4 linked regions of the Homo sapiens genome follow. The gene in region 4 interacts genetically with the main gene of each other region. Each region holds a gene or a part of one and is shown on either strand. Other genes may lie near its edges. The genes, in order: GAGE1, GAGE12F, PCDHA13 and FLT3.

What was found.
Region 1: changes in FLT3 (region 4) and GAGE1 together harm fitness less than expected from each alone (positive genetic interaction), as found in Homo sapiens cells (one study listed by BioGRID).
Region 2: changes in FLT3 (region 4) and GAGE12F together harm fitness less than expected from each alone (positive genetic interaction), as found in Homo sapiens cells (one study listed by BioGRID).
Region 3: changes in FLT3 (region 4) and PCDHA13 together harm fitness less than expected from each alone (positive genetic interaction), as found in Homo sapiens cells (one study listed by BioGRID).

The regions. Positions count from the first base shown.
Region 1 is NC_000023.11:49,595,196-49,602,041, reverse strand, and holds the start of GAGE1 (G antigen 1), read right to left. Parts: upstream 3,023-6,846; 5' UTR 2,915-3,022; intron 1,876-2,914; 5' UTR 1,868-1,875; coding exon 1,784-1,867; intron 1,319-1,783; coding exon 1,198-1,318; intron 1-1,197. Other genes in the region: GAGE2A (G antigen 2A/2B), read right to left, coding at 5,309-5,331. UniProt on the Homo sapiens protein: Antigen, recognized on melanoma by autologous cytolytic T-lymphocytes.
Region 2 is NC_000023.11:49,556,332-49,563,850, reverse strand, and holds the start of GAGE12F (G antigen 12F), read right to left. Parts: upstream 3,010-7,519; 5' UTR 2,902-3,009; intron 1,863-2,901; 5' UTR 1,855-1,862; coding exon 1,771-1,854; intron 1,306-1,770; coding exon 1,185-1,305; intron 1-1,184. Other genes in the region: GAGE12E (G antigen 12B/C/D/E), read right to left, coding at 5,296-5,318.
Region 3 is NC_000005.10:140,877,115-140,885,135, reverse strand, and holds the start of PCDHA13 (protocadherin alpha-13 isoform 1 precursor), read right to left. Parts: upstream 3,013-8,021; 5' UTR 2,868-3,012; coding exon 474-2,867; coding exon of another isoform or gene 444-473; exon of another isoform or gene 256-443; intron 1-255. Other genes in the region: PCDHA12 (protocadherin alpha-12 isoform 1 precursor), read right to left, coding at 7,297-8,021. UniProt on the Homo sapiens protein: Potential calcium-dependent cell-adhesion protein. May be involved in the establishment and maintenance of specific neuronal connections in the brain.
Region 4 is NC_000013.11:28,027,560-28,034,581, forward strand, and holds part of FLT3 (receptor-type tyrosine-protein kinase FLT3 precursor), read right to left. Parts: intron 6,849-7,022; coding exon 6,742-6,848; intron 6,656-6,741; coding exon 6,523-6,655; intron 6,433-6,522; coding exon 6,328-6,432; intron 730-6,327; coding exon 619-729; intron 1-618. UniProt on the Homo sapiens protein: Tyrosine-protein kinase that acts as a cell-surface receptor for the cytokine FLT3LG and regulates differentiation, proliferation and survival of hematopoietic progenitor cells and of dendritic cells.

The sequences.
Region 1 (6,846 bases), on a different chromosome or scaffold from region 4:
ATTCAGCCCAGCTTTAGACCTTTCTCCTAAATGACAATCTAAGGATAAACCACAGGACATGTATAATGCTTATATTCAGCCCTAGAGTACCAACAGCAGTGTGCGTCAGCTGAGAAATCTGAAGTCTACCACGTGGGTAGGATTTCAGTTACAATTACAATGTCAGTTTCTGAAGGATTGATTAGCTGGATGGATTTGAGGACTATGGAAAATCTTACAGTCACGACACCCATTACCTATTGGGGTAAAGAGAAACTTCACTTTGTTCAAATAAAGTTATATTTAGGTCCGAAGGTCCTAAAGGTAATATTCCATAAATGAACCCCGTGAAGAACAAAGCACCAAATATAACATTGTTTGTGAATCACAGAAAATATACTGTCCCCCGCACTGAGAATAAGGGAGTGGGCGGACAGCAATTAATGGGCATTGTTGTCAGTCAGATTCTAGGAACTTTTAACAGTGCATCCCTGGAATAATCCATGACCTCCGTTACATAAATGCTTCCTTTCAAAACATTTTATCTCGGAGAAATTATTTCCATCTCACGTTAATCTCAGGATAATTCCGTTTTTGCTTTTCTAACCATAAAAGGATTTAATCACCTCCTAAAGGCCGCTGAGAAAAATCACTAAACCAGCTACCTGTATGGCAGTATCCTCATTTATCCAGCTTTTATCAAACGTACCATATAAAAATATCAATCAAAGGAAACGGGGGCCAACATTCAGCGACTCGGTTTTTGGAGCTGCTCCTGCTCCTCTGAACTGGGTCTATTCTTGGGTCAGTACTAAGCTACCTTACAGTAAAGCCTTTTGAGTTTTAAGCATTTTCAGCAAAATCACTTCCTTCTTTACAGCAACATACATGATAGGAAGACACAAACCTTGGAACACAGTACAAATGTTGTATTCACCAGTCAAGGGTTCTTGGATAACACACAATCCTGGCACCTCCATTCTCTCATTCATAAAGTCGAGATCTTTTACCATAGTGAGGGATTTGCCTAAGCTAAGCTGCGAACTACATAGCCTCCTCGCTTTTCCAGTCAATTTCAGGCATTCTTTCCATTGTTTTCTTTCCTCCTCTTCCTCCTATGTGACAATGCCTAACACACACACACACACGTGCACACACACACACACGAACACACACACACGCACACACCAGCAGACGTTCTTCTTCCCTTTCCCTCACCTTGACCTGCAGATGCTCCCTCATCCTCTCCCTCCTGAGCAGCTGCAGGATCCTGACGTTGAGTTGCTGGTTCCCCTTCTTCAGGTGTTGCTGGTTCCACTTCATCACTGAACTGCTCGGGCTGGGGAATACGTGTGGGTGTGCAAATAAAAAATAAGTTTCGTTATTGATACAAAATTTTACATATATACACAGAATACATAGCTATTTCTGGTCCTAACTAAGCCTAAAGACATTTCTCCAACTCTATGCTCTATGCCCAATAAGGTTACTCCACCCACAGGGAGGTTACTGTGAGAAAAGTGACGCACGAGGACTTTGGGGGCTATTATACTCTGTGTTGGAATACATGTGTACAATCTGTCATTAACAAACAAAGCCGGAGAAAGAAGTCATGGGCAAAAGCTGAAGAACACGAGAGGAAAAAAAAAATCCTCCAGAATCAATGTTTCCTTCATGAGATGCCATCCTCATTTTTTATGAGCAGGAAAGACCTTTATCAGCATTTCCACACTAATGCAACGACGCTATCACAAAAATTAATTTCTACTAATAGAAAACATCGAATTAACGTTTAAGCACTCACCCGCATAGGCCCAATCATTTCAGGAGGCTGTACATAGCGCCTTGGTCTAGGCCAATAATAGGTCGATCTTCCTCGCCAACTCATATTTCACACTGAAAACAGACAACCGTGATTGGGAACGTGCGCTCCAGAGGGCTGCTATATTCGATCACTTCCATGGATAAATGTTAACTTGCCGTTTTACTTTTGAAAATACTCTCAAAATAAGTCCCAGAGTTAAGCATACGTGTGTACGCTGTCTGAGTGCCTACAAAGCCACTTCTGCTGGCCAGGCTGGCAGAGCAATCATCTTAAGGCGTGTGGCAAAAGGCAGAGGACATTTTTTTCTAAATTTCTTTTGGACACGCGGTCTCGCTGTGTTGCTCAGGCTGGAGTGCAGCGGCGTGATCACAGCTCACTGCAGCCTCGACCTCCCGCTCAAGGGATCCTCCCACCTCAGTGTCCCCAGTAACTGGGAATACGTAGGCGAGCGCCACTGCGCCCCGCAGACAGAGGTCATTTCTGATGAGGTTTAGTTTCACAAGTGCACTCCCCACGAAAACCCTAGTGAATCACAATTCTCGTGATTGCTGCTTTGGGCACACTCCCACTTCCTAGAGCCATTCACCCCCCCTCACAACAAGTTTGGTTGGACCGCACTGCCTCGCCCACTCCTTCCCACTGTTTTCGGACCTTCCATGGCGGAGGTGAGACCTTGCAGTGCTTCTCACTCGGGCGCTCCGCACTCCACACCGCTGAGGGGGCGCTCGCCAGGCCGCAGCCTTCCCAGGTGCCAGGCCCCTTCTTCACCGCCCGCCTCGCCCCCGCCGGGGGCCCCATTCAGGGAATCTGCCCTGTGTCGTCGGGGATCCCGGCACCTCGGGACTTCCATCCCCCCAACAGCACTCACCCCGTCTTCACCTGAGCCCCTGACCGCCTCCCCTCCACGGCCCACCTTCCTCCCCGTCCAGGCCCCTTCACGACCACGAAGCCGCCGGTGGCCTCGCAGCCTGTGAAGGGAAGGAGGACGACCTCGTGGCCCTTCTCCCTCGGAGGCCACAGACCAGGAAGCGGGACCCGCCTGACCCACCCGAGGCCCTCTCCACCCTCACTCACACTTCAGCCCCCGGGATGACTGGCCTGCACACCTACCAGATGAATCTCAGTAGAGGAAAAAGAGTCCGGACGGCAGGAACCACACAGCACTGCCTCACAGCTCCCTGGCGTTCTTCACGTGGGCGAAGGGGCCGGGCAGAAGACGCCCAGTGAACATGCGCACTGAGGCGGGAGCCCAGGGAGCATGCGCGGCTGTGGGCTGGGGAGGGCTGCCGTTCCCAGCGCCACGCCCCAAACCCTCCATGCCCATCCTCATTGAGGATAAGGGAATCCCACCTCCCTCTGCTGTTTCCTATGCCTCTGGGACTCAAGTAGTGCTCCCCTCAAAACTCACCCCATCTTCAACTGAACCCCACCCCCAACCCAGGGCCCTCTCTTGCCCCGGACCCACCATGGGGACAAGGACCACTGTGACTGGCTGGGAAGACAGGTAAACCACCTGCGAAAACAGAAATAGCAACCTATCCCAAAAGGAAATTGTTCAATGTGAACAAGTCAGAGAAAGAGACTGAAAGAAAAATGAATAGAATCGCTAGGACCCGTAAGAAAATGCTAAAACGATATCTATCATTTGTAGCATCAGAATCGCAGAGGGTGAAGTGACAGTATTAGGGAAACAGGACAGCCAGAGTGACACCACGTGAAAATATACTCCGTCTTGAAAGCAGCAAGATACATAGTCCTACCAGTCACAACCCATGGTCCTAAGATGTTTGGAGTTGAGAAAACAGATGAAAGGTACCTCCAAGGACATGCTCCCACAGCAGCGGAAAGTGCACGGTTCCCAACACCCATTAACAATATATGCTTTCAACAGAATTATGCTTTCATGGACTTACACACTGGTAAGTCAAGGACAGTTTTCTTTAAATCAATAGAATGATAAAAGTCATCATGCTCTTAGCCCACCCGCACAAAGGCACAGATTAACTTTAGTCTTTATATAGATAAGACCCCTATATAAGAAAAACCAGACCAGGCCAAGGCTCACGCCTGTAATCCTAGTATTTTGGGAGGCTGAGCTGGCCAGATCACCTGAGCTCAGGACTTCGAGACCAGCCTAAGCAACATCAGAAAATCTCATCACTACAAAAAACAAACAAAAAACCATCGAAAAATTAGCTGGGCATGGTGGCATGTACCTATACTCACAGCTCCTCAGGAGGCTGAGGTGGGAGGCGCGCTTGAGCCCAGGAGGTCAAGGCTGCAGCGAGCTCTGATAACACCACCGCACTCCAGCCTCGGTGACAGAGTGAGACGCTGTCTCAAGTTTTAATAATCGAACCTAAAAACGTACAAATTTATCAATCGAATTCACTATATTAACACATGAATGGGAAAAAACGCTGTGGTAATCGAAATAGATGCACTGTTTGATGAAAATCAACATATATTCAAATGAATACTCTCAGCAAATTTGGAACAGAATGCAATGACTCACTCTGATAAAGTCCGTCTACAAAAAAAGGAGAGTGAATAGGATGGTGAAATGTTGAAATTTTTCGGTTTCTCATCAGGGATAAGACAAGGATGTCCACTGTCACCATTGTAACGGGTGGGTCTGCGCAATGCCATAAAATCAGAAAAGGAAATAAAACTCTTTACAATGGCAACGACGGGCCCGCCACGGTGGCCCACGCCAGTAATCCCAGCACTGTGGGAGGTGAGGTGGGTGCATCACTTGCACTCAAAAGTTCAACAACAGCCCGGGAAACATGGCAAAACCCCGTCTCTACAAAAAAATACAAAAGGGAAAAGAAAAAAATATGGCGGAAACAAAACTGCTCTTATTCCAGGATGATATGTTTCTGTATATTGAAGACTGAAAACGACCTAGAAGTAAACTTTAGAATTCACAAGCATATTTCACAAGGCCGCTGGATAGAAAACCAATATGTAAGAATTATGTCTCCACCGGGCGCGGAGGCTCATGCCTGTAATCCCAGCACTTTGGGAGGCCAAGGCAGGTGAATCACGAGGTCAGGAGTTCAAGAGCACCCCGGCCAAGATGGCGAAAGCCCATCTCTAGTAAAAACACAAAACTTAGCCAGGCGTGCTGGTGGGTGCCTATAATCCCAGCTACTCGGGAGGCTGAGGCAGACAATTGCTTGAATCCGGGAGGCGGGGTTGCAGTGAGCAGAGATCGCGCCACTGCACTCCAGCCTGGGCGACAGAGCAAGACTCCGTCTCAAAAGAGGACAAAGAAAGAAAGAAAAAAAAAAGAACGATGTCTCTACATACCAGCTCAGAGAGTTACAATACACGATTTCAAAGAATGATACATATTTCACAGCATCAAAAAGCTAGAAATAAACTTCACAAAAGATGCGCAAGACTTCTTTGCAGAAGGCTGTAAAGCTTTATTGGGAGAATTTTAATGAACAAATTTCCAACATAGGAGCAGCCTGCATCATTTCAACGTGTCTTCTTTTAACACTGTGATTGCTTTTCACCTGTAACAGAAACACAACGATTGGGAACATGACTTAGCAACAGATTATTCAGATGACCCTAAAGGCATACAAAGCACACTACAGTTTGGGTTTTATTAAATGGACTAAAAACAGAACCCTATGGGTGATCCCGTGTCTTACACGCAATTGAACCTCTGCATAAACTTTGAGCGTAGACCTGCAGAATTTAAAAGGAATTTCCTCCCTGAACATCAAGTGCTTCCTTTCAAGTCACAAGCACTTACAATTAACAGTCAGCAATTTGGAAAACACATGTGTAAAGCATACTTCAGTTGATTACTCAGGAAGTACTAGAGTCATGGTCTTTCAACTTCAAATCTTATCAATTCATGTCTCTAAAGGTGAAACTTACATGTAACATTTGATATGATTAGAGATGATTATATCGTATGTGTGTCTACAGTCTTATTAGAAATAGTGGCTCATGAAGACTGACAGTGGGGCAGGGAGCATGCATAGCACAGGCATCTTACTCACACCCATGCTGAGCATCACTGACCTACATGCCACAGATGATACGAACTAAACGGTCTCTCGCCATTTGATATTTATTTCAGTCACTCAAGGTTTCCGTGGGGAAAGATTTAAGAAGCAATTGTACCATTTGACCCAGCCATCCCATTACTGGGTATATACCCAAAGGACTATAAATCATGCTGCTATAAAGACACATGCACACGTATGTTTATTGCGGCATTATTCACGATAGCAAAGACTTGGAACCAACCCAAATGTCCAACAACGATAGACTGGATTAAGAAAATGTGGCACATATACACCATGGAATACTATGCAGCCCTAAAAAATGATGAGTTCATGTCCTTTGTAGGGACATGGATGAAACTGGAAATCATCATTCTCAGTAAACTATTGCAAGAACAAAAAACCAAACACCGCATATTCTCACTCATAGGTGGGAACTGAACAATGAGATCACATGGACAGAGGAAGGGGAATATCACACCCTGGGGACTGTTGTCGGGTGGGGGGAGGGGGGAGGGATAGCACTGGGAGATGTACCTAATGCTAGATGATAAGATAGTGGGTGCAGCGCACCAGCATGGCACATGTATACATATGTAACTAACCTGCACAACGTGCACATGTACCCTAAAACTTAAAGTATAATGATAAATAAATAAATAAATAAATAAATAAATAAATAAAAGAAAAAAAAAGAAGCAATTGTTCATTAAAAGCCAGAGAAACCCTGCCTGGGCAACACAGTGAGACCTCATCTCTACAAAAATGAAAACAAAAAAATGTAGTCAGGCACGGTGGCTTGTGCATGTAGTTCCAGCCACTCGGGAGGCTGAGGTGGGAGGACGGCTTTAGCCTGGGAGCCAGAAGTTGCAGTGAGCTGAAATTGCATCACTGCACTCCAGCCTGGGTGACACACTGAGACTCTGTCGCAAACAAACAAACAAACCAAGAAGAGGGAGAATTCACAATTTCACAAGATCTTACACTACGTATTCAGCTCTCCACACGGAA
Region 2 (7,519 bases), on a different chromosome or scaffold from region 4:
TTTAGACCTTTCTCCTAAATGACAATCTAAGGATAAACCACAGGACATGTATAATGCTTATATTCAGCCCTAGAGTACCAACAGCAGTGTGCGTCAGCTGAGAAATCTGAAGTCTACCACGTGGGTAGGATTTCAGTTACAATTACAATGTCAGTTTCTGAAGGATTGATTAGCTGGATGGATTTGAGGACTATGGAAATCTTACAGTCACGACACCCATTACCTATTGGGGTAAAGAGAAACTTCACTTTGTTCAAATAAAGTTATATTTAGGTCCGAAGGTCCTAAAGGTAATATTCCATAAATGAACCCCGTGAAGAACAAAGCACCAAATATAACATTGTTTGTGAATCACAGAAAATATACTGTCCCCCGCACTGAGAATAAGGGAGTGGGCGGACAGCAATTAATGGGCATTGTTGTCAGTCAGATTCTAGGAACTTTTAACAGTGCATCCCTGGAATAATCCATGACCTCCGTTACATAAATGCTTCCTTTCAAAACATTTTATCTCGGAGAAATTATTTCCATCTCACGTTAATCTCAGGATAATTCCGTTTTTGCTTTTCTAACCATAAAAGGATTTAATCACCTCCTAAAGGCCGCTGAGAAAAATCACTAAACCAGCTACCTGTATGGCAGTATCCTCATTTATCCAGCTTTTATCAAACGTACCATATAAAAATATCAATCAAAGGAAACGGGGGCCAACATTCAGCGACTCGGTTTTTGGAGCTGCTCCTGCTCCTCTGAACTGGGTCTATTCTTGGGTCAGTACTAAGCTACCTTACAGTAAAGCCTTTTGAGTTTTAAGCATTTTCAGCAAAATCACTTCCTTCTTTACAGCAACATACATGATAGGAAGACACAAACCTTGGAACACAGTACAAATGTTGTATTCACCAGTCAAGGGTTCTTGGATAACACACAATCCTGGCACCTCCATTCTCTCATTCATAAAGTCGAGATCTTTTACCATAGTGAGGGATTTGCCTAAGCTAAGCTGCGAACTACATAGCCTCCTCGCTTTTCCAGTCAATTTCAGGCATTCTTTCCATTGTTTTCTTTCCTCCTCTTCCTCCTATGTGACAATGCCTAACACACACACACACACGTGCACACACACACACACGAACACACACACACGCACACACCAGCAGACGTTCTTCTTCCCTTTCCCTCACCTTGACCTGCAGATGCTCCCTCATCCTCTCCCTCCTGAGCAGCTGCAGGATCCTGACGTTGAGTTGCTGGTTCCCCTTCTTCAGGTGTTGCTGGTTCCACTTCATCACTGAACTGCTCGGGCTGGGGAATACGTGTGGGTGTGCAAATAAAAAATAAGTTTCGTTATTGATACAAAATTTTACATATATACACAGAATACATAGCTATTTCTGGTCCTAACTAAGCCTAAAGACATTTCTCCAACTCTATGCTCTATGCCCAATAAGGTTACTCCACCCACAGGGAGGTTACTGTGAGAAAAGTGACGCACGAGGACTTTGGGGGCTATTATACTCTGTGTTGGAATACATGTGTACAATCTGTCATTAACAAACAAAGCCGGAGAAAGAAGTCATGGGCAAAAGCTGAAGAACACGAGAGGAAAAAAAAAATCCTCCAGAATCAATGTTTCCTTCATGAGATGCCATCCTCATTTTTTATGAGCAGGAAAGACCTTTATCAGCATTTCCACACTAATGCAACGACGCTATCACAAAAATTAATTTCTACTAATAGAAAACATCGAATTAACGTTTAAGCACTCACCCGCATAGGCCCAATCATTTCAGGAGGCTGTACATAGCGCCTTGGTCTAGGCCAATAATAGGTCGATCTTCCTCGCCAACTCATATTTCACACTGAAAACAGACAACCGTGATTGGGAACGTGCGCTCCAGAGGGCTGCTATATTCGATCACTTCCATGGATAAATGTTAACTTGCCGTTTTACTTTTGAAAATACTCTCAAAATAAGTCCCAGAGTTAAGCATACGTGTGTACGCTGTCTGAGTGCCTACAAAGCCACTTCTGCTGGCCAGGCTGGCAGAGCAATCATCTTAAGGCGTGTGGCAAAAGGCAGAGGACATTTTTTTCTAAATTTCTTTTGGACACGCGGTCTCGCTGTGTTGCTCAGGCTGGAGTGCAGCGGCGTGATCACAGCTCACTGCAGCCTCGACCTCCCGCTCAAGGGATCCTCCCACCTCAGTGTCCCCAGTAACTGGGAATACGTAGGCGAGCGCCACTGCGCCCCGCAGACAGAGGTCATTTCTGATGAGGTTTAGTTTCACAAGTGCACTCCCCACGAAAACCCTAGTGAATCACAATTCTCGTGATTGCTGCTTTGGGCACACTCCCACTTCCTAGAGCCATTCACCCCCACTCACAACAAGTTTGGTTGGACCGCACTGCCTCGCCCACTCCTTCCCACTGTTTTCGGACCTTCCATGGCGGAGGTGAGACCTTGCAGTGCTTCTCACTCGGGCGCTCCGCACTCCACACCGCTGAGGGGGCGCTCGCCAGGCCGCAGCCTTCCCAGGTGCCAGGCCCCTTCTTCACCGCCCGCCTCGCCCCCGCCGGGGGCCCCATTCAGGGAATCTGCCCTGTGTCGTCGGGGATCCCGGCACCTCGGGACTTCCATCCCCCCAACAGCACTCACCCCGTCTTCACCTGAGCCCCTGACCGCCTCCCCTCCACGGCCCACCTTCCTCCCCGTCCAGGCCCCTTCACGACCACGAAGCCGCCGGTGGCCTCGCAGCCTGTGAAGGGAAGGAGGACGACCTCGTGGCCCTTCTCCCTCGGAGGCCACAGACCAGGAAGCGGGACCCGCCTGACCCACCCGAGGCCCTCTCCACCCTCACTCACACTTCAGCCCCCGGGATGACTGGCCTGCACACCTACCAGATGAATCTCAGTAGAGGAAAAAGAGTCCGGACGGCAGGAACCACACAGCACTGCCTCACAGCTCCCTGGCGTTCTTCACGTGGGCGAAGGGGCCGGGCAGAAGACGCCCAGTGAACATGCGCACTGAGGCGGGAGCCCAGGGAGCATGCGCGGCTGTGGGCTGGGGAGGGCTGCCGTTCCCAGCGCCACGCCCCAAACCCTCCATGCCCATCCTCATTGAGGATAAGGGAATCCCACCTCCCTCTGCTGTTTCCTATGCCTCTGGGACTCAAGTAGTGCTCCCCTCAAAACTCACCCCATCTTCAACTGAACCCCACCCCCAACCCAGGGCCCTCTCTTGCCCCGGACCCACCATGGGGACAAGGACCACTGTGACTGGCTGGGAAGACAGGTAAACCACCTGCGAAAACAGAAATAGCAACCTATCCCAAAAGGAAATTGTTCAATGTGAACAAGTCAGAGAAAGAGACTGAAAGAAAAATGAATAGAATCGCTAGGACCCGTAAGAAAATGCTAAAACGATATCTATCATTTGTAGCATCAGAATCGCAGAGGGTGAAGTGACAGTATTAGGGAAACAGGACAGCCAGAGTGACACCACGTGAAAATATACTCCGTCTTGAAAGCAGCAAGATACATAGTCCTACCAGTCACAACCCATGGTCCTAAGATGTTTGGAGTTGAGAAAACAGATGAAAGGTACCTCCAAGGACATGCTCCCACAGCAGCGGAAAGTGCACGGTTCCCAACACCCATTAACAATATATGCTTTCAACAGAATTATGCTTTCATGGACTTACACACTGGTAAGTCAAGGACAGTTTTCTTTAAATCAATAGAATGATAAAAGTCATCATGCTCTTAGCCCACCCGCACAAAGGCACAGATTAACTTTAGTCTTTATATAGATAAGACCCCTATATAAGAAAAACCAGACCAGGCCAAGGCTCACGCCTGTAATCCTAGTATTTTGGGAGGCTGAGCTGGCCAGATCACCTGAGCTCAGGACTTCGAGACCAGCCTAAGCAACATCAGAAAATCTCATCACTACAAAAAACAAACAAAAAACCATCGAAAAATTAGCTGGGCATGGTGGCATGTACCTATACTCACAGCTCCTCAGGAGGCTGAGGTGGGAGGCGCGCTTGAGCCCAGGAGGTCAAGGCTGCAGCGAGCTCTGATAACACCACCGCACTCCAGCCTCGGTGACAGAGTGAGACGCTGTCTCAAGTTTTAATAATCGAACCTAAAAACGTACAAATTTATCAATCGAATTCACTATATTAACACATGAATGGGAAAAAACGCTGTGGTAATCGAAATAGATGCACTGTTTGATGAAAATCAACATATATTCAAATGAATACTCTCAGCAAATTTGGAACAGAATGCAATGACTCACTCTGATAAAGTCCGTCTACAAAAAAAGGAGAGTGAATAGGATGGTGAAATGTTGAAATTTTTCGGTTTCTCATCAGGGATAAGACAAGGATGTCCACTGTCACCATTGTAACGGGTGGGTCTGCGCAATGCCATAAAATCAGAAAAGGAAATAAAACTCTTTACAATGGCAACGACGGGCCCGCCACGGTGGCCCACGCCAGTAATCCCAGCACTGTGGGAGGTGAGGTGGGTGCATCACTTGCACTCAAAAGTTCAACAACAGCCCGGGAAACATGGCAAAACCCCGTCTCTACAAAAAAATACAAAAGGGAAAAGAAAAAAATATGGCGGAAACAAAACTGCTCTTATTCCAGGATGATATGTTTCTGTATATTGAAGACTGAAAACGACCTAGAAGTAAACTTTAGAATTCACAAGCATATTTCACAAGGCCGCTGGATAGAAAACCAATATGTAAGAATTATGTCTCCACCGGGCGCGGAGGCTCATGCCTGTAATCCCAGCACTTTGGGAGGCCAAGGCAGGTGAATCACGAGGTCAGGAGTTCAAGAGCACCCCGGCCAAGATGGCGAAAGCCCATCTCTAGTAAAAACACAAAACTTAGCCAGGCGTGCTGGTGGGTGCCTATAATCCCAGCTACTCGGGAGGCTGAGGCAGACAATTGCTTGAATCCGGGAGGCGGGGTTGCAGTGAGCAGAGATCGCGCCACTGCACTCCAGCCTGGGCGACAGAGCAAGACTCCGTCTCAAAAGAGGACAAAGAAAGAAAGAAAAAAAAAAGAACGATGTCTCTACATACCAGCTCAGAGAGTTACAATACACGATTTCAAAGAATGATACATATTTCACAGCATCAAAAAGCTAGAAATAAACTTCACAAAAGATGCGCAAGACTTCTTTGCAGAAGGCTGTAAAGCTTTATTGGGAGAATTTTAATGAACAAATTTCCAACATAGGAGCAGCCTGCATCATTTCAACGTGTCTTCTTTTAACACTGTGATTGCTTTTCACCTGTAACAGAAACACAACGATTGGGAACATGACTTAGCAACAGATTATTCAGATGACCCTAAAGGCATACAAAGCACACTACAGTTTGGGTTTTATTAAATGGACTAAAAACAGAACCCTATGGGTGATCCCGTGTCTTACACGCAATTGAACCTCTGCATAAACTTTGAGCGTAGACCTGCAGAATTTAAAAGGAATTTCCTCCCTGAACATCAAGTGCTTCCTTTCAAGTCACAAGCACTTACAATTAACAGTCAGCAATTTGGAAAACACATGTGTAAAGCATACTTCAGTTGATTACTCAGGAAGTACTAGAGTCATGGTCTTTCAACTTCAAATCTTATCAATTCATGTCTCTAAAGGTGAAACTTACATGTAACATTTGATATGATTAGAGATGATTATATCGTATGTGTGTCTACAGTCTTATTAGAAATAGTGGCTCATGAAGACTGACAGTGGGGCAGGGAGCATGCATAGCACAGGCATCTTACTCACACCCATGCTGAGCATCACTGACCTACATGCCACAGATGATACGAACTAAACGGTCTCTCGCCATTTGATATTTATTTCAGTCACTCAAGGTTTCCGTGGGGAAAGTTTTAAGAAGCAATTGTACCATTTGACCCAGCCATCCCATTACTGGGTATATACCCAAAGGACTATAAATCATGCTGCTATAAAGACACATGCACACGTATGTTTATTGCGGCATTATTCACGATAGCAAAGACTTGGAACCAACCCAAATGTCCAACAACGATAGACTGGATTAAGAAAATGTGGCACATATACACCATGGAATACTATGCAGCCCTAAAAAATGATGAGTTCATGTCCTTTGTAGGGACATGGATGAAACTGGAAATCATCATTCTCAGTAAACTATTGCAAGAACAAAAAACCAAACACCGCATATTCTCACTCATAGGTGGGAACTGAACAATGAGATCACATGGACAGAGGAAGGGGAATATCACACCCTGGGGACTGTTGTCGGGTGGGGGGAGGGGGGAGGGATAGCACTGGGAGATGTACCTAATGCTAGATGATGAGATAGTGGGTGCAGCGCACCAGCATGGCACATGTATACATATGTAACTAACCTGCACAACGTGCACATGTACCCTAAAACTTAAAGTATAATGATAAATAAATAAATAAATAAATAAATAAATAAATAAATAAAAGAAAAAAAAAGAAGCAATTGTTCATTAAAAGCCAGAGAAACCCTGCCTGGGCAACACAGTGAGACCTCATCTCTACAAAAATGAAAACAAAAAAATGTAGTCAGGCACGGTGGCTTGTGCATGTAGTTCCAGCCACTCGGGAGGCTGAGGTGGGAGGACGGCTTTAGCCTGGGAGCCAGAAGTTGCAGTGAGCTGAAATTGCATCACTGCACTCCAGCCTGGGTGACACACTGAGACTCTGTCGCAAACAAACAAACAAACCAAGAAGAGGGAGAATTCACAATTTCACAAGATCTTACACTACGTATTCAGCTCTCCACACGGAAAAACTAGGATGAAGCAGAGGGCCCGCTCACTGTCTTACTGACAATGAAATCTCAATTCAGAGATTTTCAGATGACTCGGGCCAGGGTTTCATGATTTGTGATTAACAAACCATGCGAAGCAGATGATCTCTGTGTCCCACGCATTCTATGCAACAGGATCAGAGTATGAAAGAAACGGAATGCAAAATGGTTTTAAAATCTCTGACTTAAACTCACTATTTTCATAAGAACCAAAGATAGGTTTAGAAGGGAAAGGACTCACTCAGAATCTCGCCAAGGCTGTAAGAGCTGGTATTAGAACCCGCATGAGTGCTTCAGCATTTTTCACACCAAGTGATGGGTGTTACAAACGTGTTATGTATTGATTAAAAGCAGACCTTTACAAAAGCATCTGAAAATTGTGAGCTACTGGTTTAAGGATTTACACTCAAAACTTTTAATTCAACATAGCTTTGACTCAGTTTGTTTCCCTACCTGACAGTCTATCAGTCGGGTGCTGGGGCCTGAACTACGTTTCAAATAACCTTTATATAAGAACTCTGTTACTAAAGAGGCAGTATTGTTACCTCTCCGTTATTAAAAATATAATGCTGGGTCGGGCACGGTGGCTCTCGCCTGTAATCCCGGCAATTTCAATGGTCGAGGCAGGTGGATCACCTGAGGTCAGGAGTTCGGGAACAAC
Region 3 (8,021 bases), on a different chromosome or scaffold from region 4:
AAAAGAAAGAAAGAAAAGTGCACTTAAAAAAAGCATTTATGTGAAAAGTTATGGGGCTCTTTAAAATAATATCTTGTGGGTATATGTATACATTAAACTAAAAATTTTTTAAATTTAAGATTACGATTAGCCTCATTAAAACAAACATTTTCTAAATGTTTAAGTTCTCACAACGTGAGGAATTTTTTGTAAATGCTCAATTGCAAGATAAATACTTAGAACTATTAAGAATACAACAGAAACAAAATATTCTTGTTTTGCACATTTCATTATGGTTTGTGAGTTAAGATTTCACTCTGAAGGATAATCCAACACATAATGTCCACAGCAGAGTTGTTAAATTCGATAACAACTAGCAAAATTAAAATTAAAGTAAAGAATAATTTGAAATTGGCAGGAAAGATGTCTTAAACAAACAACTGCAAGGAAGGCTAAAGTGTTTACTAAGACAATTTTTTAAAATATAAGCTTACCTCTTTCAAGCATTCTGAGTCCTCCTCCCTCTGGCCTGTTCCCTCTGCAGAACCCAGACAAGGAGGAAGGCTGGGACTGAAGGCCATGAGGTCCGTCTTATGCGGGCCCTCCCCAGAGCACACCCTCGGCCGCCTCTGCTGCGAGTACGACCAACTCCCTGCCGCGCTGGAGCACACTAGAGTGGGCTTGCCCGGCGCGCACGCGCCCTCGGTGGGCGGTGCCGAGCACCGCAGCGCAGTATACAGCAGCAACGTGAGCACCAACAGGCTGGACACCGCGCAGATGGCAATGATCAAGTAAACATTGACATCCACCAGCGCCGCTTCTGGACCCACAGCGCCTGCCGACGCCCTCGACGAAGCCTGTGGCGCTTGGCCGCTCTCCACCAGCGACAACAGCACCGTTGCCGTGGCCGTCAGCGCGGGCTCACCGTGGTCCTTCACCAGCACCAGAAGGCGGTGGTGCGGCGCGTCCACCTCGTCCAGAGGGCGCGTCGTGCTGATCTCGCCAGTGTACAGCCCCACGCGGAACGGGATGCGCGCGCCGACCGCCGCCAGCTGCAATTCATACGAAAGCCACGCATTGTAGCCCGAATCGGCGTCCACCGCGCGCACCTTCGCCACCACGTGGCCTGCACCCACCGACCGCGGCATCAGCTCGCTCACTGTGCCTCCCGCGCTGCCAGCCCCGGGCGTCAGCAGCGCCGGAGCGTTGTCGTTCTCGTCCAGCACGAACACCTGCAGCGTCACGTTGCTGCCCAGAGGCGGCACGCCAGAGTCGCGCGCGCTCACCTGGAACTGCAACAGCTCCAGCTCCTCGTGGTCCAACGGCTGCAGCGCGTACACCTTGCCGCTCTCCGCGTGCACCGACACGTAGCTCGACAGCGCACGCTCGCCCACCCGCCGCTCCACCAGCGAGTAGGAGACCAGCGCGTTCTCCTGTGCGTCCGCGTCCTGAGCAGACACCGTGAAGATGTGGCAGCCCGGCGGATTGTTTTCCTTCACGAACACCGTGTACTCGGGCTGCGCGAACGCCGGCGCGTTGTCGTTCACGTCGGCCACCCCCACCGACACGCTGGCCGTGGCCCACAGCGAAGGCGAGCCCCCGTCCCGCGCGGTCACCACCAGTTCATAGGCTGATACGCTCTCGCGGTCCAGGGCGCTGTCCAGCACTAATGAGTAGTAGTTCTTGTAGGTGGACACCAGCTTGAAGGGGACATGCGGCGTCAAGGTGCAGGTGACCTGTCCATTTGAGCCAGAGTCACGATCGGACACACTGATTAGGGCAATAATGGCGCTAGGCTGAGTGTCTTCTCTGATGGGGAGTGACAAAGAAGTGATGGTAACCTCTGGGGCGTTATCATTTACATCTAGTACTTCCACCAAAAGGGTACAATGACCCGCCATTGGAATATTTCCTTTGTCAACTGCCTCCACGGATATTTCATATAATTTCTTTTCTTCGAAATCTAGTTTGCCTTTTGTCCTAATTTCTCCATTGTTCGGATTTATGGTAAATGCATATACCACTGCAGGCCATACAGGCCTTCTAAATGAGTAAACTATATCTCCATTTGTACCATCATCAGGATCTGTGGCATTTAGCTTGATCACTAATGTTCCATTGAAGGCGTTCTCTAACACCGTCACTTTATAAACGGATTGGTAAAATTCCGGGGCGTTGTCATTCACGTCCAGAATCGTGATGAGCAGCTGAACTGTGCCAGTCAGCTCGGGTTTACCTCCATCACTGGCTGTCAGTAATAAACTATGTTCCTGAATTTCCTCTCTGTCCAGTGTTTTCCTCAGTACAAGTGATAATGAAGACATTTGCTCAAGACTGTTTTGTGCGTCCAAAGTGAAATAATCGTTGGGATCCAGTCGGTAGGTCAATGCCGAGTTTACTCCAATATCTGCATCGGATGCGCCATCTAGTGGAAATCGAGTTTCCGGAGGTCTAGATTCTGCAATGATTATTCGTTTCTTGCTTTCAGGGAATATGGGCGGGTTGTCGTTAATGTCCCTCACCTTCACCTCCACATGGAAAACCTGCAGAGGCCTGTCCACGATCACCTCCAGGTGGATGCTGCACTCCGCGCTCCGCCCACACAGCTCCTCGCGGTCGATCCGAGAATTCACAAACAAAATGCCATTCTGCAGATTTACCTCCAGAAGGTCCCCGTGTCTTTTGGACGCCACCCGGAACAGGCGCGGCACCAGCTCCGCCAGCTCCAGCCCCAGGTCCTGAGCGATGCGGCCCACGAAGGTGCCGTGTTTTGCTTCCTCGGGGACGGAGTAGTGGAGCTGGCCACTACCCGTCTCCCAGGCTGCGAGGATCAGAAGCCAGAGCAGTAGTTGCCGCGGTCTTGGGCCTCCTTGCCAGGAAGACAGCATGGTACACTCCAAAAACCTCAGAGCTATCTGCAATATATACAACGCCTTACCTCAAACTGTCTCTCAAGGCCCAATTTTTATGGCTTCCTAGTGCGGAAGGATTCGCAAGAGGTATTCCGCTTTCTGCTATATTTTCTGCAGGAAGAAAGAAACGGCGGCTTTCTTCGCGGAAACGTTCTCAGTGAAGAGCGACACCATGCGCATGAACGTGTAAGTGTAAGTATGACTCAGTCTTCATATTTTCCATTGATGTAGTATTTTTTTGCCCCTTGCATTTCCTGACATTTTCACTGCAAATATGTAATTGAAGATTAAATGTTTACCTTCCCAGAAACAGCAAATCACTGCATTCTGCTCAACATTTTATATTAGCTGACAATTGGTTGATGAGTTTCATTTTGCCACAAATTTATTTTTCCATGTGTAAGAATTCCATGCAGAACTTTAAGACAAAGAATATTCGACACTCGTTTTGGGACAATTGATCGGTAGTTCTGCATAGTCATGTAGGTTTTTGTGGTACTGTCCTCTTCCTGTAATATTTTTCAAGACCTCCTCACACAACAGCCATTGACTCCAAAAGGAAACATAACAATCACATAAGAATAAAATCGGTGAAGGTGAAAAATATTGGTAACTGATATATCAGATTTTGAATAAGCACATCATATTAATAAATTTCCCTCAATGTGACTTGAGATGTAGATAAGATATTTATATTCAAAAGAAAGTGTTCAGTCAATATGTGTGGGATTTTGTATGTGAGTGTGTGTATGTGCATAAACACAATAATTTAGCCACAACAATGCTCTAAGGTTTTGGATTCTGTTTTTATAAAATATGCCTGGAACTAATATCCTATTGATTTAATAGAATTTAACTTACCGCCGCCGGCTGCAATTCATACGAAAGCCACGCATTGTAGCCCGAATCGGCGTCCTGGTTAAATAGAATTTAACCAGGAGGTTAAAGTTTCCATTTTCTCTCTCCATCTTACTTCATCATCACTGAGTAAAACCTTGCCGTCATTTAAATTGACTTTAATTTTCCAAGAAACAACAGCTAGACAAAGATGTTAACATATCTTTAGCAAGGAAAAGAGGAAGAGGATCTTACTTTTATCTATTGTTATAACTATCTCTACCAAGCCACAAAATCCCAGGCCAAATGGTGTAATGAAAAATATATCATAGCTCCAATAATTATCTGGCCTGTTCTGTGCACAACTCTATAGGAAATGACTGTTGGGTTTATTTCCATAGCTCTGCTCTCCTCTGAAAATTTAGGCAGAGTATTTGGTATTCTCTTACCCTCATCATCCTCTCCTGCTCCATTACTTTTACTAACATAGTATTTCTCTTCTAATTCTTTCTATCTGGCCCTACATTTCTTTATTTACCTCTTCACATAATTAGACTACATAGTCAACCATTTAAAATATGCCCTTCCAGACACTCTAGAGTCATTCACCTATTTATATTACTCCTCTAACATTCTTTTTAGCCTCCAACACGCAGTTACACTGACAATCCATTTTCTCTATGCTTCCTATTAAGCTGCTCAACATTGTCACTTAACCATGACTATTCTCTTCAAATTTACTCTCACCTTTACCTCAGTTGGGCTCTCAAGTGAATTGATAATTAACTCCTCCCTCTTGCTTACAGAGATTCTTCCATATTCTCTTTCCTCTCTTCTCAAATTCTCAACCTCATTTCCATCAGTTCACTTTCAGATGATTCACACATTGAGAGATGTGACCAAACAGAAATTCAATTGCTCTCTTCTTGTGTCATTTTTCCTTATATTATCTGTTTTCATTTTCTACTAGTTGTAAGGAAAAACTGTTCCCGCTTTTAAGGTCAACCATATGCTCTTAAAAATTATTTTCTATTCTCTCATGGTTTTCATCTAAATTCACCTGCTGCCTGTCTTATTTTTAGTATCTTATTTTTTACTTGTTTCTTTCACTCACACTATGAAGATAGTCAAACTTCTTTAACTAAAATATGTATACATACACACACGCACATACACTAATTTAAATGTTCTACTTCTGGTGGAAAACCTCTTCTGTTTATCTTTTTCCCTTCATGTTTAACTTCTAACATATACTTGATATATTGCACTTTGAGCTTTATTTCAGCTTCCTGTTGTCTATCCTTCTATGATTTTAAGCCTACTATAATAGGTTGAATTGTGGTCCCCAAAAAGTTATGCCCACATCTTAATCCCTGGAACTTGTGGATTTTACTTTATATGGTGAATAATATGATTAAGTTAAGGATCTTGAAAGGAGTTTATCCTGGATTATCCAGATGGGCCCTAAATACAATCACATGTACCTTTGTAAAACCAACACATAGAGAGAGACATGGAGAGGAGGAGGCAATGTGACCATGAAAGCTGAGAAGGCTGAGATGGGAGTGGTACAGCCACAAGCCAGGGAACACCAACAGCCAATAGAAACTGGAAGAAACAAAAACCAGATTCTTCCCTGGGGCCTCCAAAGAGAGTATAGCCTTGACAACACCTTGATTTTGGACTTCTGGTCTCCAATACTGAGAAATAATAAACTTTTGCTGTTTTACAGCACCCAGTTTGTGTTCGTTTGTTATAGCAGCCACAGGAAGCGACACACTTACCCACCTAAGTACCTGGACACATTGTTTTTCACTTTTCAATGTCTGTCTTGGCAATTTTATTCTTTCATGGATTATTTTTTTCTCTAAAGGAGTTGTTCCCAAAATCTATATCAATAATCTCTTCTGAGATCCAGACCCATATTTCCAATCACAACGGTATTCTCTTAGGACTTCAAAGTAACATTTTCTTAAATGTTCATCTCCATTCCCTACCTGCTCAAATACACACAAACTGTTTCTCCAACCTTGTTCTGCAGGTTGGTTAATGGCAATGTCATCTTCTCAGCTGAACAAACTAAAAAAGTGAGAGTCAACTTCTACTTTTGTTTTTCTCTTATCATTTGTATTGAGTCTGTCATTATCTGGCTGCTTCTACTTTGCCAGTGCCTCTTGTATATGTCTTTTTCAATTCATTTCTACTGCCATAATTTAAGTCTCCATTACTTGATACCTAATTTATTAAAAAAGAAATAGCTTTCCTGCCTTCACAATCTCCCCTGCTCTAATCCTTCAATTACACCATATACTGTGCAGTTGTTCCTACTTATCTCTCTTAACACTTTCTTGGTAAAATGTTGTCTATCTTTCAAGACACTCTTCAATAAAACATTATCTGATTTCTAGGGCATACTCTCATTTCTAAGATAGAGGGGAATGTCCAGGTAATACATTTCAATACCATATATTTATTTAAAATTATTGATTGAAGCTGGGAGTGGTGGAGCCTGCCTGTAGTCTCAGCTACTTGAAAGGCTGAAATGGAGGATCAGTTGAACCCAGAAGTTCTAGTCCAGCCTGTGCAACATAGCAAGACCCCCATATGTTTTTAAAAAGTGATTGAACATATACTATATTCCAGATCCTAAACTAAAGATATGTAAGAAAGTAGATATAAGGCTGGAAATTTTAATGCCTTTACTACCAGGCTGGGGTATGTAAGACTTTATTCCCTGGTTAAAGAGAAGCCTCTGGATATTTTTGTAGAAATAGAAAGTTAAAATATGTAAAATGCACATTAGAAGATTCACTTGGTAATAGGCACAGGGCAGTGGTATACTATGATAAGTTTGGGATCATCTGAAACTGGTTTGAGCCACAGTTGGTTACCAACTGTACTGTATCGTACAGATGGTTAAATATTTTTAAATTGAGAAATGATTTTATTATATTTCATGTAAATAAGAATAGTACAGTATCTATTCCTACTTGAAATAAAGAAGATATTTTGTGAGCAATGAAGAAAATCATTCATCATATGTCAGACATATCATTTATATTATTGTGATAATACCTGGAATATAATGTGAAAATGTCTAGATTGTACTGAAATTAGAATAGTGATCAAGAAGGCTATTTTAAAAGCCTAAGCACGTGAGGAAGAGTTAAAGAATCCATTAATGGGATCTAGGAACTCTTTGTACCATTCTTGCAACTTACCTGTAATCTTGAAATTATGAACAAATTAAATTTTTAAGTTATCAAACATCTGGCCACTTTTTAATCTAATATACTGTTTTTTTCAAGGTTCATCAGTCATATAAAATATTATAGAAAAAGAAAAATATTAAGTGTGGTGCTCCATGGCCTCCATTGTACCTACATATTTCCTTCATTAATGTTAGACAAATACATAAAAGTTCAAAATGAGTAAGAATGACCAAGAAAGATGAGACATTCGATAGTTTAAAGGATAGAATCATAAAGAAAAATGAGAGAATGTAGTTATAACCTAAACGGAAGTTCTTCAAGGAAACAAATATATCTAAATAATATTAATAACTTACTTCACTGGGAGGATTTAAACAATCTTCTCGAGACAGCTGAAGGCTTGGGCTGAAGGCCATGAGGTCCGTCTTGGGCGGGCTCTCTGCAGAGCACACCCTCTGCCTCCTCTGCTGCGAGTAAGACCAACTCCCCACGGCGCTGGAGCACACCAGCGTGGGCTTGCCCGGCGCGCACCGGCTCACGGTGGGCGGCGCTGAGCAACGCAGCGCAGTGTACAGCAGCAGCGTGAGCACCAGCAGGCTGGACACCGCACAGATGGCGATGATGAGGTACACGTTAATATCCACCAGAGCCGCTTCGGGATCCACAGCGCCCACTGAGGCCCGCGACGACGTCTTTGGGGCCTGGCCGTTCTCCACCAGCGACACCAGCACCGTGGCCGTGGACGTCAGCGCGGGCTCACCGTGGTCCTTCACCAGCACCAGCAGGCGGTGGCGCGGAGCGTCCGCCTCATCCAGGATGCGTGTCGTGCTGATCTCGCCAGTGTACAGCCCCACGTGGAACGGGATGTGCGCGCCGACCGCCGCCGGTTGCAACTCGTAGGACAGCCAAGCGTTATAGCCGGAGTCAGCGTCCACCGCGCGCACTTTCGCCACCACGTGGCCCGCACCCACCGACCGCGGTACCAACTCGCTAACTGCGCCTCCTGCGCTGCCAGCCGGAGTCGCCAGCAGTGCCGGCGCGTTGTCGTTCTCGTCCAGCACGAACACCTGCAGCGTCACGT
Region 4 (7,022 bases):
TTGGTAACTATATGCTGATTTGCTGTTTGCTTGAGGAGGGAGAAATATATTCCCAGTCCTCTCTCAGATTCACTTTCCTCTTTTTCCTTTCTTTTAGTACCAGCCCCAGGCCTGCTGCTGCAGAAAGAATGAACCTTGGGCACATCATTTGGGTATTTCTAGGCAGAAGAGAGAAGATCAGAGGGCATGCCCCAGAGAATTCTGGGAAAGTAAAGTCTGATATCCTAGCTAGGCTGTGCCGTATTTGACGGCAGCCCAACTGGGGCAGTGGCCAGGCTCTGTAACCACTCTCACCACGCCTGTGCACCAGCTTCCAAGCTGGGAGAGAAGCACAGACACCACCAAATGTACTTGCAATGTTGTTGTTGTTGTTGTTTTTAAGCAGGTGAGAATTATGCAATATATCACGATAAAGCAGATGAATGAGGCATTCTTTATTTTGACCCCTCTGATTTATAGAGTGCTCAGTGTCTAATTCCACTTGGGTTTGAGAGTTCACACTGTGACTGAGAAAAGACAAAGAATTAAAAAGAGAGAGAGAGAGAGAGAGAGCAAACATCCTCTTTGTCATCAAGCTACAGTCTTTTTGATGAGGTGATTTTCGTGGAAGTGGGTTACCTGACAGTGTGCACGCCCCCAGCAGGTTCACAATATTCTCGTGGCTTCCCAGCTGGGTCATCATCTTGAGTTCTGACATGAGTGCCTCTCTTTCAGAGCTGTCTGCTTTTTCTGTCAAAGAAAGGAGCATTAAAAATGTAAAACTCAAGTAAAATACGAATTTTATGTCATTAAATAAAATTTTTCTCAGCTCAGAGTCAATCTGCATTATTTATTTAAATTCAAAATTATGAGAGAAGCCAGGCATGGTGGGTCATGCCTGTAATCCCAGCACTTTGGGAGGCCGAGGTGGGTGGATCACTTGAGGTCAGAAGTTCAAGACTGGCCTGGCCAATATGGTGAAACCTCGTCTCTACTAAAAATACAAAAATTAGCCAGGCGTGGTGGCAGGCACCTGTAATCCCAGCTACTTGGGAGGATGAGGCAGGAGAATCGCTTGAATGTGGGAGGCAGAGGTTGCAATTAGCTGAGACTGCACCATTGCACTCCAGCCTGGGCAACAAGAGTGAAACTCCATCTTAAAATAAATAAATAAATAAACAAACAAACAATATCCTGTGTTTTAAGACAGAATTTCTCCTTTTTCTTTTTTTTTTTTCCTTTTCTTTCTTTCTTTTTTTTTGACACAGTATCTCACTCTGTCACCCAGGCTGGAGTGTAGTGACATGATCTCAGCTTACTGTAGCCTCTGCCTCCTGGGCTCAAGTGATCCTCCTACCTCAGCCCTCCAAGTTACTGGTACTACAAGCACAGGCCATCATGCCCAGCTAATTTTTATATTTTTTGTAGAGATGGGGTCTCACCATGTTGCCCAGGCTGGTCTTGAACTCCTAGATTCAAGCAATCCTCCCAACTCCGCCTCCCAAAGTGCTGGGAATACAGGCATGAGCCACCATGCCCAGCCTAAGGCAGAATTCAGACTGTAGTATAGGGCTGGGCGCAGTGGCTCACACCTGTAATCCCAACACTTTGGGAGGCCAAGGCGGGTGGATCACTTAAGGTCAGGAGTTGAAGACCAACCTGGCCAACATGGTGAAACCCTGTCTCTACTAAACATACAAAAAATTAGCCGGGCGTGCCGGTGCGTACCTGTAATTCCAGCTACTCAGGAGGATGAGGCAAAAGAATCCCTTGAACTGGGGAGGCAGAGGTTGCAGTGAGCCGAGATTGAGCCCCTGCACCACTCCAGCCTGGGTGACAGAGCGAGACTCTGTCTCAAAAACAAAACAAAACAAAACAAAACAAAGACTATAGTATAAATGTTGAATCTGGTAATGCACCTTTCAACAGGACTTTCCTCTACCTACCAAAATAAAAATCCTTACAGTTGGCCCTCAAAACAAACAAACAAAATAATAACACATGCTTTTCCTCCTCAGTACAAGTTAACAGAAGGGAGAAACGTCCTTTTTGTTTGTTTGTTTGAACTCTTGGATCTGTTGTAGTCAGAGAGAGATAACAGTGTCGTGAGCATGGTTGACTCTAGCCTGTGGCCCTCAGGTCTAGAACATTAGATTTGCCAGCAAGTCCAATGGGAGAAGGTCAAAGAGGACTAATTCCCACTATCAGGTGCTCAAGAGACCCATTAATTGACATTGAGAAATAAAACTGCCAAGCAGGCTAGAACATATTGGTTGGCCAATGCATTCTCTCTCTAGGGAAAATTCCAGATAGCTCAGCAAACTGTACTTATAAGCTGACTTAGAAGCACAGTGTGAGGAAAGTCACTATGGAATCCAAGGGCTCCCGTCATTGCGGCTCATGTGCAGTTGGTCAGGGCAGCCCGGGCAGCCACAGGGGCAAGGGCAGGGTCTCTGGACTTCCCTCTCCAGGCTCCAGGCACCACCCCTCTGTGAACAGACTTTTTCTTCCAGATATAGTAACTCTTCTTTACATTCAGTGAAGATTTGGTTCGATTGCCAGGTTCCATTATTTTGTCCAGGAAGGCATCCTAACCTTTATAGTGGCTTCTCCGGTGCTGACATCCTCTATTTTGGTTTGGGCAAGCTCTCAGGGGTATCCTTGTTTCCAAGATTTTAGCTTGGGGGTGGGATTTCCTGTGGGCACTGGGACCCCCTAATACATCATGTCTTCAGCTTCACGCTGGACAGGGATTCGGGGCTTTACTTGTTCATGTCCTATTCCTCATGGCTAAAATAATATCTTACATTTTTTAGCATGCTTAGCTTCTTCTAAGCATTTTCATGTACCATTACCTCTTTCATTCAGTCATTCAACAAGTATTTATTGAGTGCCTACTCTGTAAGAGCCAATGTCCTAGACACTGGGGAATGAAGGAAAAACAAGACACAACCCTTGTCTTCCTGGATCTTAGAGTCTCCTGGAGAAGGCAGAGAAGTAAATAAGCCATGACAATACAGTGCCATAAATGCAATACGGCAGGCAAGACGTGGGTCCCCGCGCCTCTAATCCCAACATCTTGGGAGGCTGAGACAAGCGGGAGAATTGCTGGTACCCAGAAGTTCAAGAAAGGCCCGGGCAAAATAGCAAGAGCTTGTCTCTACTTAAAAATAAAATAAAGTAAAAATACATAAATAAATAAAATAAAATAAAATAAAAATTAGCTGGGCTTGGTGGTGCCTGCATGTAGTTCCAGTTACTGGAAAGGCTGCAGACCATCACTTGAGCCCAGGACTTGAAGCTTGCCGTGAGCTATGATGACTTCACTGCACTCCAGCCTGGGTGACAGAGTGAGACCCTATCTCAAAAAAAGAAAAAAGAAAGAAAAAGAAAAAATGCAACGTTGGGCTGGGCACGGTGGCTCATGCCTGTAATCCCAGCACTTTGGGAGGCTGAGACAGGCGGATCACGAGGTCAGGAGATCAAGACCATCCTGGCTAACACGGTGAAACTCTGTCTCTACTAAAAATACAAAAAAATTTAGCCGGGCGTGGTGGTGGGTGCCTGTAGTCCCAGCTGCTAGGGAGGCTGAGGCAGGAGAATGGCGTGAACCCAGGAGGCGGAGCTTACAGTGAGCTGAGATGGTGCCACTGCACTCCAGCCTGGGCGACAGAGTGAGACTCCGTCTCAAAAAAAGAAGAAAAAATGCAACGTGGCAAAGGAGTGCAGGGGTACTGTAGGGTCAAAAGGGATAGCTACCTTAGCCTTGGAGGGGTGGAGAAAGGAGCATTCAATGTCTAAACTGAGTCCTGAAGAAAAATGGGAGCTGGCCAGGTGACTCATGGTGGAAGGGGAGGAGAACAGTGCTGAGGGTTGTGAAAGAGTGGGCAAAGGTCGAGAAAGGAGAGAGCACAGCACCACAGACACAGACCCTGCCCTCATGAGGCACAGGGGCTACTGGACAGATGGGACAACAATTGGATGTTAAAAAATGTCATGACAAAGGTGATGGATTCTACGGGGGAAAGCCTGCAGAGAGCTAATGTCGCACATTGCAAGGGCCTCAATATTGTCTGTGGTGTGAGACAGAGGAAGTGGTGTTTAAGCTGAGATCTGAGGGGGCAGTGGGAGATACTTACATGAAAGGGGAAGGGGAAGCAGAAGGATCCACTTGTGCAAAGGCCCCACAGTGGGTGGGAGGACAGTGCTGGGGGAACTGAAAGAAGGCCAGCGCTCTGGGGTGCCGAGAGCAAGAGGTGGGGAGGCAGCGGTGGCCCAGCCATGCGGGTGGTGGAGGAAATGTGAAGTAGGAAAGCCATTTGATCTGCTTAGCCTTTCGCCACTGTCACTTGGACCTCAGTATGGAGAAGCCAAAGGGAGGCAAGAGTGGATACAGGAACCTGCTTTGGAAGCTTTTGTCCAGGAGAGAGCCTTGAACTAGAGTGGTGGTCATAGAGATGGAGGGACGAGGATGGAATCAAGAGACACTAATCGGAAACCTGATAGGATTAGCTCACAGGGTGTTAGAAAGAGGAAGGTGTCAAGGAAAAGTCACGGGTTTCTAGTGTGCCCAACTATATAGAATGTGGTTATTTATTCACTGGCATTCATTACCAGTCACAGAGAGGACTGCTGGTGCAGGGCCAGGGTTAGGGGAATTCACCTTGCATACACTGTGTTAAAGGGACCTTTGAGACATCCAAACATTTAACATATGAACCTGAAGCTCCGAAAGGAGACGCAAGCATGAGGGCCCTTGGTGTATGGGAGGACATCACGGGTGTAGTGGGGATGGACTGTGTTGAGTGTGTGGAGCGAAAACGCAAGGCGGTCCAGGAGCAAGCCCACAGGGATGCCCCATAAAAAGCTGGATGGAGCCTGGGCAACATGGCGAAGCCCCATCTCTACCAAAAATACAAAAATTAGCCAGGCATGGTGGCGCATGCCTGTAGTCCCCCCTACTCAGGGGCCTGAAGTGGGAGGATGGCTTGAGCCTGGGAAGTGGAGGTTGCAGTGAGCTGAGATCACACCACTGCACTCCAGCCTGGGCAACAGAGCAAGGCTGTGTTTCAAAATCAGCCACAACAACAAAAGCTGGATGGAAGAAGATGAGCCCACAAAGGACTGAGTTTCAAAATCAGCCACAACAACAAAAGCTGGATGGAAGAAGATGAGCCCACAAAGGACTGAGAAGGGCAGAGGGGTGGGAGGAAAACCAGAATATGGTGACACAAAACCCAAAGAAAGAAAGCTTCTGGATGGAGAGAAGAATCAACAGCATCAATTCATGCTGAACAATCAAGTAATGAGGACTGAAAAATATCCATTAGGCTTGGTTTGGTTTGAAGTCACTGTTGACCTTAGCAAGAGAGCCAGCTGGAGATGCTTTTGCTGGGTCAGCGGTGGTAACGGTGAGGCCAGCAATGGGGCTGGACGCCAGATCGGAATGGATGGAGCAACGAAGTGAGGATACAAAGGGCCCCAGTTTTCTCTCCTACCCAGAGTCTGTTTCAACCCACACCTGTAATCCCAGCACTTTAGGAGGCCAAGGCAGCCTCACTTGAGCCAGGAGTTTGCAACCATCCTGGGCAATATGGTGAGACACCGTATCTACAAAAAAAAAAAAAAATTAGCCAATTGTCTTGGCACACTCCTGTGAGGCTGAGGTGAGAGCATTGCTAGAGCCAAGGAGGTCGAGGCTGCAGTGAGCTATGATCACAGCACTCTAGCCTGGGTAACAGAGCAAGATCCTGTCTCTAAAAATAAAACAACACAAATGTAAGAAAGAACTTCTGCCTGTGGCAACTGTATCCCCAAATATCAAAGCCTATAAAAACTAAATAGGCCTGGCACAGTGGCTCACGCCTGTAATCCCAACACTTTGGGAGGCCGAGGCGGGCAGATAGTTTGAGCTCAGGAGTCCCAGATCAGCCTAGGCAACATGGTGAAACCCCGTCTCTACCAAAAATAAAAAACTTAGCTGAGCGTGGTGGTGCACGCCTGTAGCCCCAGCTGCTGAGGAGCCTGAGCCCAGGGGGTGGAGGCTGCAGTGAGCCATGATCACACTACTGTACTCCAGCCTAGGTGACAGAGTGAGACCCTGTCTCAAAAAAATAAAAGAAAATAAAAATAAACAAAGAGAGAAGTGGAAGAAGAGGTGGAGTTTTGTATTTATGACTTGAATTTTGTATTCATGACTGGGTTGACACCCCAATCCACTCCATTTTTAGCCTTGAAACATGGCAAACAGTAACCATTAAAAGGATGGAAAAGAGAAGAAGGCATGGGTGGGAAACTGTGCCTCCCATTTTTGTGCATCTTTGTTGCTGTCCTTCCACTATACTGTACCTTTCAGCATTTTGACGGCAACCTGGATTGAGACTCCTGTTTTGCTAATTCCATAAGCTGTTGCGTTCATCACTTTTCCAAAAGCACCTGATCCTAGTACCTTCCCTGCAAAGACAAATGGTGAGTACGTGCATTTTAAAGATTTTCCAATGGAAAAGAAATGCTGCAGAAACATTTGGCACATTCCATTCTTACCAAACTCTAAATTTTCTCTTGGAAACTCCCATTTGAGATCATATTCATATTCTCTGAAATCAACGTAGAAGTACTCATTATCTGAGGAGCCGGTCACCTGTACCATCTGTAGCTGGCTTTCATACCTAAATTGCTTCAGAGATGAAATGATGAGTCAGTTAGGAATAGGCAGTTCTGCAGATAGAGGAAAGAATAATGAATTTTTACCTTTGCTTTTACCTTTTTGTACTTGTGACAAATTAGCAGGGTTAAAACGACAATGAAGAGGAGACAAACACCAATTGTTGCATAGAATGAGATGTTGTCTTGGATGAAAGGGAAGGGGCCTGCAACAAAAGAGTGTCACTCAGCGATGAAACAGAATTCCTGTGTGACATTATAAATAGTGGACAACTCATTATAATCTCTCACATCCTGTTTCAGTAATAATCATTTTCAGTCCTAACAACCACTCTACATATACTCTACTCCCCACAGACAATCAGGCAATGTCCCTGTAA